Regions from separate parts of the Homo sapiens genome. Here all the other regions are reported to be linked to region 3. The links are microRNA targets in miRTarBase. Many come from high-throughput screens and were not tested one by one. Region 3 holds a microRNA gene; each other region holds the end of a gene's coding sequence.
Evidence for each region. The annotated mature microRNA hsa-miR-5586-3p reads CAGAGUGACAAGCUGGUUAAAG and lies in region 3 at 1,589-1,610, shown strand. An mRNA with a match to its seed (bases 2 to 7 or 8) in the 3' UTR can be bound and repressed. Matches are read on the target gene's strand: a 7mer-m8 pairs with bases 2 to 8, a 7mer-A1 pairs with bases 2 to 7 and ends in A, and an 8mer does both.

Region 1: the mRNA of PERP is a reported target of hsa-miR-5586-3p. Seed matches in the 3' UTR shown: 7mer-m8 at 144-150.
Region 2: miRTarBase lists ELAPOR1 as a target of hsa-miR-5586-3p. Seed matches in the 3' UTR shown: 7mer-m8 at 1,209-1,215 and 8mer at 1,630-1,637.

The regions. Positions count from the first base shown.
Region 1 is chr6:138,089,353-138,092,352 of GRCh38, forward strand. It overlaps PERP (p53 apoptosis effector related to PMP22), which reads right to left. Exons shown (of 3, transcript NM_022121.5): 3 at 1-2,916. The coding sequence ends at 2,690. Among named protein-coding and RNA genes, the nearest start is that of PERP, 17 kb to the right of the region's middle.
Region 2 is chr1:109,202,745-109,205,744 of GRCh38, forward strand. It overlaps ELAPOR1 (endosome-lysosome associated apoptosis and autophagy regulator 1), which reads left to right. Exons shown (of 22, transcript NM_020775.5): 22 at 200-3,000. The coding sequence ends at 268. Among named protein-coding and RNA genes, the nearest start is that of SARS1, 9.7 kb to the right of the region's middle.
Region 3 is chr14:59,645,312-59,648,571 of GRCh38, reverse strand. It overlaps MIR5586 (microRNA 5586), which reads left to right and starts at 1,552; the gene lies at 1,552-1,610. All of the region lies in intron 3 of RTN1 (reticulon 1), which reads left to right.

The DNA.
Region 1 (3,000 bases), not on the chromosome of region 3:
TGAACTTGTGAGTTCTGCAGTCTATGGTTTTGAAGCTAAGTTATTACACACAAGCTACCTTGTGTGAACATGGAAAGACCTTGATATATTACTTCTTTGTTACAATCAGCAGTAAGTGCCACTTAGCATGTCTGGCTACTTACAGAGTGAAATAATTGCTTAGGAACCTAGAACTGCTTATTTAAAGGGTGGGAACTCAATATTTAATTACTGAACCAAAAAGCACCTCAGCTTTACTGTGGGAAATCTCATGCAATGCACTGTTAGCCTTCAGGTGGTTTCTCAGCCCAATTCTTCATTACTCTCCAGAATCCTCTGGAACTTCCCTTCTGTTATGACATAAAGGTATCTGTCTTGGTGAATCTGGATCAACAAGGAATGGCAGATCTCTATACTAGAACAAGGCTGAAGGAAGCAGACCATTTCTGCAAAATAAGAGTTTATCTTTGTCATAAATACTTTAGGTTGACATGGTTCTATTATATCAGGCTCGTTGGTCCCAGGAGGTTGCATTTTTCCTAAATGTGCGCCGTTAAGGTATTGTGTGATTGAGGAGGGGAAGAAGGCTGGATGGGAAATCATGCAAAGACAAGTGCATGTGGTAGAGAAGCTTATAAACGGAGTCATTTTCATGTTTAACAGGAGACCACGTTTCTTAATCTCTAGATATCCAGTATCTTCTTGAATGAGCTGTGGTATCACTTTAAAAGATGGGATTTTTAACATTTTTAATGACCACTTCAAATTCTCCACCAGCCACGGCATAGTTGTGTGGGTTTTTCTTTTCAATTTTGGTATAATCACCCAGATTACATTTCTCTATGAGAAACATTCACCTCGCATTTTGAAAAGCATAGAAAAATTCACTGCCAAGGACTAGCTGGCCAACAGTAGCCCTAGGGAGATATATTTCCGTTCTCCCACCCAGCCTCTCTGCACCCATCCTCACAATGACATACACCATAGTGGAAGTAACATATGACTTATGGTGGGAAAAAAAATAACAAATGATAAAATGGGAAGGAGGGCAAGGGGAAAATAGAGAGACTGCTACCCCACCACCTGAATGGAAGGGGACCCCAGCACAAGGAGGAGGCTTCAGCTACACTGCACACATGTCCCCCGGGTGTCTGAACCTGCCAGAAATCTCTTAGTCCATTTTCCTCTGGTTGATAGCACTGCAGAGAAATTGTTTAATGTGTGTCTAGGGTATTGTTCATTGAGGAAAAGTTCAGGGAATAGACTATTAGAATTCATTAATCTCCACTCAAAAATTGGTTTTGGACACCTAAAATGAGCAAGGCCCTTAAAACTTCAAACAAAAAAACAAACAAAAACCACTTTTCATTATATCCCATGTTCTTATTACCCATTTTTTTTTTAATTCCTTTCCCCAGATTTGAAAAATGGAAAAACTACAAACTGGAAACAAGTTTAGAATACCTGGTTTATTGGGAAAACTTCATAATGAAAACTACAATTAGCTTTTTCCACAACTTACAAAATAATAATCTGATATTTAAAATGAATTGGTTTTCATTATGTAAGTCGAAATGGTAAAAAATCATAATGACCTATCCGATGCATCATATATATGCTATTCAGAGAAACTCAAATCCCCGAATTCTCCTGTGGCATGTTTTATATCAGACATTTAAAATCTGTTTACCAAGAAAGACCAGGATTTTAACTATATGTAGGTTTCTGCTTACAGTTGCAAACTATCAGAAGCCTGTCTATATGATAGAGCCCAGATAAACCTGAGATTTAGAAAAGCAAGTCATTTATTCTCCTGAGGCTGTTTTAGTGGCACTTTTGTGACAAGAATGACCCTCCTAATGCTTTACTACACAACTTAACCAGATCTATCAGTCATGATAAATTAGACCCAGTCCATCTTTCAATCCAGTCTACTCTGGTTCTGAACATATAAACACAAAACACTACAGATTTATTAATATAGCATTTTCCCACACCCTAACCCTATAAAGAACTTTAAAAGAGAAAATTTCATCTAAATATTTCACACTTAAAGGAAAGCCTTACCAACTATGGCAACAGGTTTGGACCATGAAATAGTACTTTCCTAGATGACATATCGAGTCAACATGAAGCCTTAGCTAAAATGAATGATTCAGGATATTAATGAGAAATTCTCACAAATGATATGCATTTAGGAAATGATTTTGCTTTCCTTAAATAGTTCGAAGGCTTGAAAATAAACTTTTTTTTTGCATTTCTTTTAGAATGTTTGGTCATTAACAACTTTTAACCTTATCTTCCTCTTCTCCTTAGCCCTTAACAGACCGAGTCCATTCTATTTGGAAATAACAAGAACTTGATCAGATTATTAAATCTTGGAAACCTCATTTTTACCTTATAAAGTGTTAAGTTTCACGTGCATATTCTCTTACAAATGTAGTATAAATGTTATGGATAGATATAAGGAAATATTGGCATAGTATAGGTAATTAGTGAAAAGACACAACTTCACAAAACATAATAAAAGATAAACATGAAACTATAACACTACTTAAAAAATATTTTCTCCCAAATTATTTTAGCATTTTTGACTAGTTTAATAATATGAACACTGCCAAAAAATGGGTTCAAAGTCGCCTGGAGAAACAGTTTCTTCTTCTGGAGTCCATCTCAGCAGCAGCGATTTTCTCCCACATTCATTCCCAAGTTAGGCAGATGTGTAGAAGTACCTGGGCTTGGCATTGCCCAGAAGGTCATCTTCGTAGTTGGGGAGGCAGCAGAAGAAGAAGGCACAGCCAATCAGGATAATCGTGGCTGCCCACCCAAAGCCGTAGGCCCAGTTATAGATGTAAGTGACAGCAGGGTTGGCATGAAGGGTGAAGGTCTGGGTGTACTTCACGGGGTAAATTACCAGGGAGATGATCTGGAACACAGCTAAAGGGAAGAAAAAAATCCCAGGGTATGAATGCATACATGCATGAAGGAATAAATACACATTAGCGACAGATTACCTCCTTC
Region 2 (3,000 bases), not on the chromosome of region 3:
GAAAAAGATTTTTATTGTTCTCCAACTGACCCTGAAGGGAGCAAGCAGAATAGAGGGTATCTCATTTCTGTGTTTCCACAAAGCCACTGAAACAGGAATTTCATAAGGGTTCCTTCTGTCACCTATTTTCCATTTCTCTCCTTTGTCCCCAAACTTGCCCCTGTGCAGCAGCCAGCTCCTGTCACCATCTCTCTTTCAGAGGACTCCTGATGGATTTGACTCAGTGCCGCTGAAGACATCCTCAGGAGGCCTAGACATGGACCTGTGAGAGGCACTGCCTGCCTCACCTGCCTCCTCACCTTGCATAGCACCTTTGCAAGCCTGCGGCGATTTGGGTGCCAGCATCCTGCAACACCCACTGCTGGAAATCTCTTCATTGTGGCCTTATCAGATGTTTGAATTTCAGATCTTTTTTTATAGAGTACCCAAACCCTCCTTTCTGCTTGCCTCAAACCTGCCAAATATACCCACACTTTGTTTGTAAATTATGCCCTTGCTTGTATCTTGTTTCCCAAAATGGCCCATCCGCCAGAGCCATAGCTTCGTCTGCTCATAATTCTTATAGCTTTGGAATGAAAATATTTCTATCTTCTTAAGTATAGAAACTATTTCCTCTGTCCTCTAACTTAAGGGCAGAAACAGCTGGGAGTTTTCCTCGCATGCCCTCAGCTCATGATCTCTTCAGGAGAGAGGCTGGGTGAGGAGGGTGTCGGGGTTCCCTGGTGGATAATCTTCATAGCAGCCTGGATCCATTTCCCCTGGATAACCAGCTCAAAGGGAGTGAAAATGGTAGTCTGAGGGCAAGGGGAGCAAGGCCTGGGTAAGAAAAGCCTTGAAAAGCATAAAAAGAGGCCGGGCGCGGTGGCTCACGCCTGTAATCCCAGCACTTTGGGAGGCCGAGGCGGGCAGATCATGAGGTCGGGAGATTGAGACCATCCTGGCTAACACGGTGAAACCCCGTCTCTACTAAAAATACAAAAAATTAGCCGGGCGTGGTGGCGGGTGCCTGTAGTCCCAGCTACTCGGGAGGCTGAGGCGGGAGAATAGCGTGAACCTGGAAGGCGGAGCTTGCAGTGAGCCGAGATCGCGCCACTGCACTCCATCCAGCCTGGGTGACAGAGTGAGACTCTGCCTCAAAAAAAAAAAAAAAAAAAAAGAAAAGCACAAAGAGAGGCAACAAGGAATGTTTTTGTTTTTGAGACAGGCTCTCACTCTGTCACCTAGGCTGGAGTGCAGTGGCATAATCACTGTTCAGTGCAGCCTCAAGCTCTTGGGCTCAAGCTATCCTCCCATCTCAACCTCTCAAGTAGCTAGGACTACAAGTGTGCACCACCAGGCTCACTAATTTTTATATTTTTTGTAGACACAGGGTTTCACCATGTTGCCCAGGCTGGTCTCCAACTCCTGGGCTCAAGTGATCTGTCCGCCTCAGCCTCCCAAACTGCTGGGATTACAGGCATAAGCCACTGCACTCAGCCTTTTATTTGTTTTTTAAACCACGTAGCTCATTGCCTTCTCTTAAGTAAATGATAGATATTCTCACTGAAGCCAAAGGAATAAGTTCATCAAGAAAATGCCCAAAGCCCTGGTGGATACATCCTCCCTATCTTTTTTTTAAACCTTCCACTATCACTCTATGACACTGAAAAGAACCAGGTAAGCCCCAAACCCAGATGTTCCAGCCTTATCCTCTGTTGGGTTTACCCACAGACATAGCAAACCCTGTCAGTGAGGAAAATTCCCCATCCTTGAGTGCCCCCGTCCTAGAAGTTTGGGCCATATTATGGAACAGGGGTCTCTTATTTGAAAAGAGCACAAGGAGGCCAAGATTTTAATGGGGCACTTTAGGGGATACAGCCCACAATGGCATGGGCCTGAGGTGGCCGTGATGTCTGCTTCTAAGCTTAACGCATCTGCTCAGGCACAGAATAAACGTCTAGGCTGGCCAAAAAAGGAACTGAATCCCAGGCCCATACGCCAGCACCAGAATCAAACCAGTCTTCAAGGAAGGAAGGCTAGGAGAGTTTAACAAGATTTTCACTGGGCCCAGCATGGTGGCTCACACCTGTAATCCCAAGGCAGAATGGTGGCTTGAGCTCAGGAGTTCAAGACCAGCCTGGGCAACACAGTGAGACCCTGTCTCTAAAAAATTTAAAAATAAACAAGGTGTTCACCAAGCTGGGATACTTCTCACTATTAAGCCCCTATCTTTCTCTTTTTTTCATTCTCAATTGCTTTGTGTGATAAAAAACTAAAGAGACTTCTGGTCCAATTTCTGGCAACATCCCTTCTGAAAGGTGAGTAGAGTGGGTGTCTTCTATGCCCATTTTCCCCAATTTTACACAAACTATTATCAATGAACTTTTAAGTACCTAGAATGGGTAAAACCAGAGCAAGACTTTAAATTACCTTCTTCTTTCTTCTACTGGCAGTTCTGCCTCCATCACTATCAGGCTAGGGTGACCTTCCCTTGGTCAAGCCCCAATTGCCCATGATTTGTGCCTGTGCCCTTTCTCCAGTGACCATTTGGTGACCAGATGGTAGATATAGAAAGGGGATGGCATTTGCAAGTGACTAGTCTGCCACAAAATGCTCATCTGATTAGCCACTGCTGCCCTGGCAATGGCTTTGTAAGAGTCAATGAGAACTAGAGCCAGGCTGTGGTCCCTGGCCATCAACAGTGTTGGTGACGGCAGGGAGTCCCTTTGGTTTAATAAATCCAGTTTTTCTTTGGGTATCCAAATTCTCCCCTCCTTTTGTAGGAGTCAGGCTCTCAGAACCTGTGTCCATGTTGGAACTTCCCCCAGTGTGGATGCAGATACGCAGCTCCTGAGCTCCAGCCTAAAGTCTTCTGTAGCCTCAGCAATACTTGGGCACCTGCTGTCTCACTGAATAGCTTTCTTTTGTGACAAAGGCCACAGACAGCCCTTAGACTATTCCGGAAACAGTAGGAAAAATTACATATGTCTTTGACTTCTTTATTCTGACTCCACTGATTTT
Region 3 (3,260 bases):
ATGTGCTGCTGGATTCAGTTTCCAAGTATTTTGTTGAGGATTTTTGCCTCAGTGTTCATCAAGGATATGGGGCTGAAGTTTTCTTTGTTGTGTCTCTGCCAGGTTTTGGTTTCAGGATGATGCTGGCCTCACAGAATTAGTTGGGGAGGAGTCCCTTCTCATTTTGTTGGAATAGTTTCAGTAGGAATGGTACCAGCTCTTCTTTCTTTATTTTAATGGCAGAATGCAGCTGTGAATCCATCTGGTCCTGGACTTTTTGGTTGATAGACTATTTATTACTGATTCAATTTCAAAGCTCATTATTGGTCTGGTCAGGGAAGCAATTTCTTCCTGGTTCAGTCTTGAGAAGGTATATGTGTCCAGGAATTTATTTATCTCTTCTAGGTTTTCTAATTTGTGTGCATGTGTGCATAGAGGTGTTCATAATAGTCTGTAATAGTTATTTGTATTTCTGTGGGGTCAATGGTAACATCCCATTTGTCATTTCTGATTGTGTTTATTTGGATCTGTCTTTTCTTCTTTATTAGTCTAGGTAGTGGACTACCTTATTAATGTTTTTCAAAACACCAACTCTTGGATTTGCTTATTTTTTCATGGCTTTTAATGTCTTGATCTCCTTCAATTCAGCCCTGATTTTGGTTATTTCTTGTCTTCTGCTAGCTCTGGAGTTGGTTTGCTCTTGCTTCTCTAGTTCTTTTAGTTGCAGGGTTAGGTTATACATTTGAGATGATTCTAACTTTTGATATTAAGTTGGAATTTAGTGCTATAAATTTCCCTCTTAACACTGCCTTAGCTGTGTCCCAGAGATTCTGGTATGTTGTATCTTTGTTCTCATTAGTTTCAAAGAATTTCTTGATTTCTTCCTTAATTTCATTATTTACCCAAAAGCCATTCAGGAGCAGGTTGTTTAATTTCCATGTAACTGCATGTTTTGAGTTTTTTGTAGTCTTGATTTTCACTGCTATCCAAGAGTGAATTTGGTATGATTTCAGTTCTTTTACATTTGCTGAAAATTGTTATATAACCAACTGTGTGGTTGACTTTACAATATGTGCCATGTGGTGATGAGAAGAATGTATAGTCTGTTGTTTTGGGGTGGAGAGTTCTGTGGAGATCTATCAGATCCATTTGGTCCAGTGTTGAATTTGGGTCTGAAATATCCTTGTTAATTTTCTGCCTTGATCATCTGTCTAGTTCTGTCAGTAAGTGTTGAAGTCTCCCACTATTATTGTGTTGGAGTCTAAGTCTCTTTGCAGGTCTCTTGAGAACTTGCTTTGTGAATCTGGGTGTCCCTGTGTTGGGTGCATACGTATTAGGAGAGTTAGGTTTTCTTGTTGAATTGAACCCTTTACCATTATGTAACGCTCTTGTCTTTTTTGATTTTTGTTTGTTTAAAGTCTGTTTGTCTGAGATTGGGATTGCAACCCCTGCTTTTTTCTGTTTTCCATTTGCTTGGTAGATTTTCCTCCATCCCTTTATTTTGAGCATATGGATGTCACTGCATGTGAGATGGGTCTCTTGAAGACAGCATACCATTGGGCCTTGCTTCTTTATCCAGCTTGTTACTATATGCTTTTTAAATGGGGCACAGAGTGACAAGCTGGTTAAAGAAGCAAGACCCCTTCAAGATTATTATTGATATGTGTGGATTTGATTCTGTCATTGTATTGTTATCTGTTTTTTATGCCAGCTTGTTTGTGTGGTTGCTTTATAGTGTCACTGGCCTCTGTACTTGTGTTTTTTTTTAATTGGCTGGTAATGGTCTTTCCATATTTAGTGCTTCGTTCAAGATCTCTTGTAAAGCAGATCTGGTGGTAATGATCTCCCTCAGCATTTGCTTATCTGAAAAGGATCTTATTTCTTCTTCACTGAGGAAGGTTAGTTTGGCTGGATATGAAATTCTTGGTTGAAGATTTTCTTCATTGAGAATGTTGAATATAGGCCCCCAATCTCTTCAGGCTTGTAGGGTTTCTGCTGAGAGGTCTGCTGCTAGCCTGATGGGGTTCCCTTTCTCTCTAGCTGCTTTTAACATTCCTTCTTTCATTTTGACCCTGGAAAGTCTGATTGTGTATCTTGGTGATGATATTCTTATGGAGAATCTTGCAGAGGTTCTCTGTATTTCCTGAATTTGACTGTTGGCCTCTGTAGTGAGGTTGGGAAAGTTTTCACAGAAGATATCCTGAAATATGTTTTCCAAGTTGTTTGCTTTCCCCCAATCCCTTTCAGGGATGCCAGTGATTTATAGTTTGGGCCTCTTTATATAATCCCATATTTCTCAGAGGTTTTATTTGTTCCTTTTCATTATTTTTTCTTTATCTGTATATGACTGTCGTGTTTAAAAGAGCCAGTCTTCCAAGTTCTGAGATTTCTTCCTCAGTTTGGTCTATTTTGCTGTTAATTCTTGTGACTGCATTGTGAAAATCTTGCAGTTTGTTTTTCAGCTCTATCAGATGAGTTCTTTTATACTGGCTATTTTATCTGTCAGCTTCGGTATCATTTTATTTTGATTGTTAGTTTTCTCGGATTGGATTTTGCCATTCTCTGGAACCTCAATGATCTTTGTTCCTATCAGTATTCTGAATTTTCTTTCTGTTATTCCAGCCAACCCTGGTTAAGAATCCTTGTTGAAGAACTAGTGTAGTCATTTGGAGGATATAAGACACTCTGGTCATCTGACTTGTCAGAGTTCTTGTGTTGGTTCTTTCTCATCTCTGCATTTAGGTGTTCTCTTAACTGCTGGGCTGCCTCTGATTGAAGCGGTCAGGCAGGGGCAGAGTGGTTGCACTGGAGTCCTGGGCCTGGTAACTCTGCCCAGTGAAGAGAAGTGAGGACCAGGACCTGCGTGGAGAACAGTATGGACACTTTTCCATTAGGTGGATGCTCTGTGCTGGGGGTTCAGACCAGTGCCGGGTCCCCATGGACTCTCTAGAGCCTGGAGACAAGAAGGGTGAGGGCTGTGAGACAGCAAAGATGGCAACCCACCCCTCCCACTGGGAGCTCTGTCCCAGAGAGCTGAAGAACTGCTACTGGCTCAATAGCTCCAGTGGGGAAAGGCTGGAGACCCAGGCTGGGAGAACCTGCCCAGTGAGGAGATACGGGAACAGGGACTCATGTAACAAACATATAGAAAACATGTAACATGTAGAAAACATGTAACATATAGAAAACATGTAATATATAGAAAACATGTAACAAACATATATAAAAGTCTGGCCACTTTTCCATTGGGCTGCTGGAATATGCAGGAGGTCTGCTCCAGT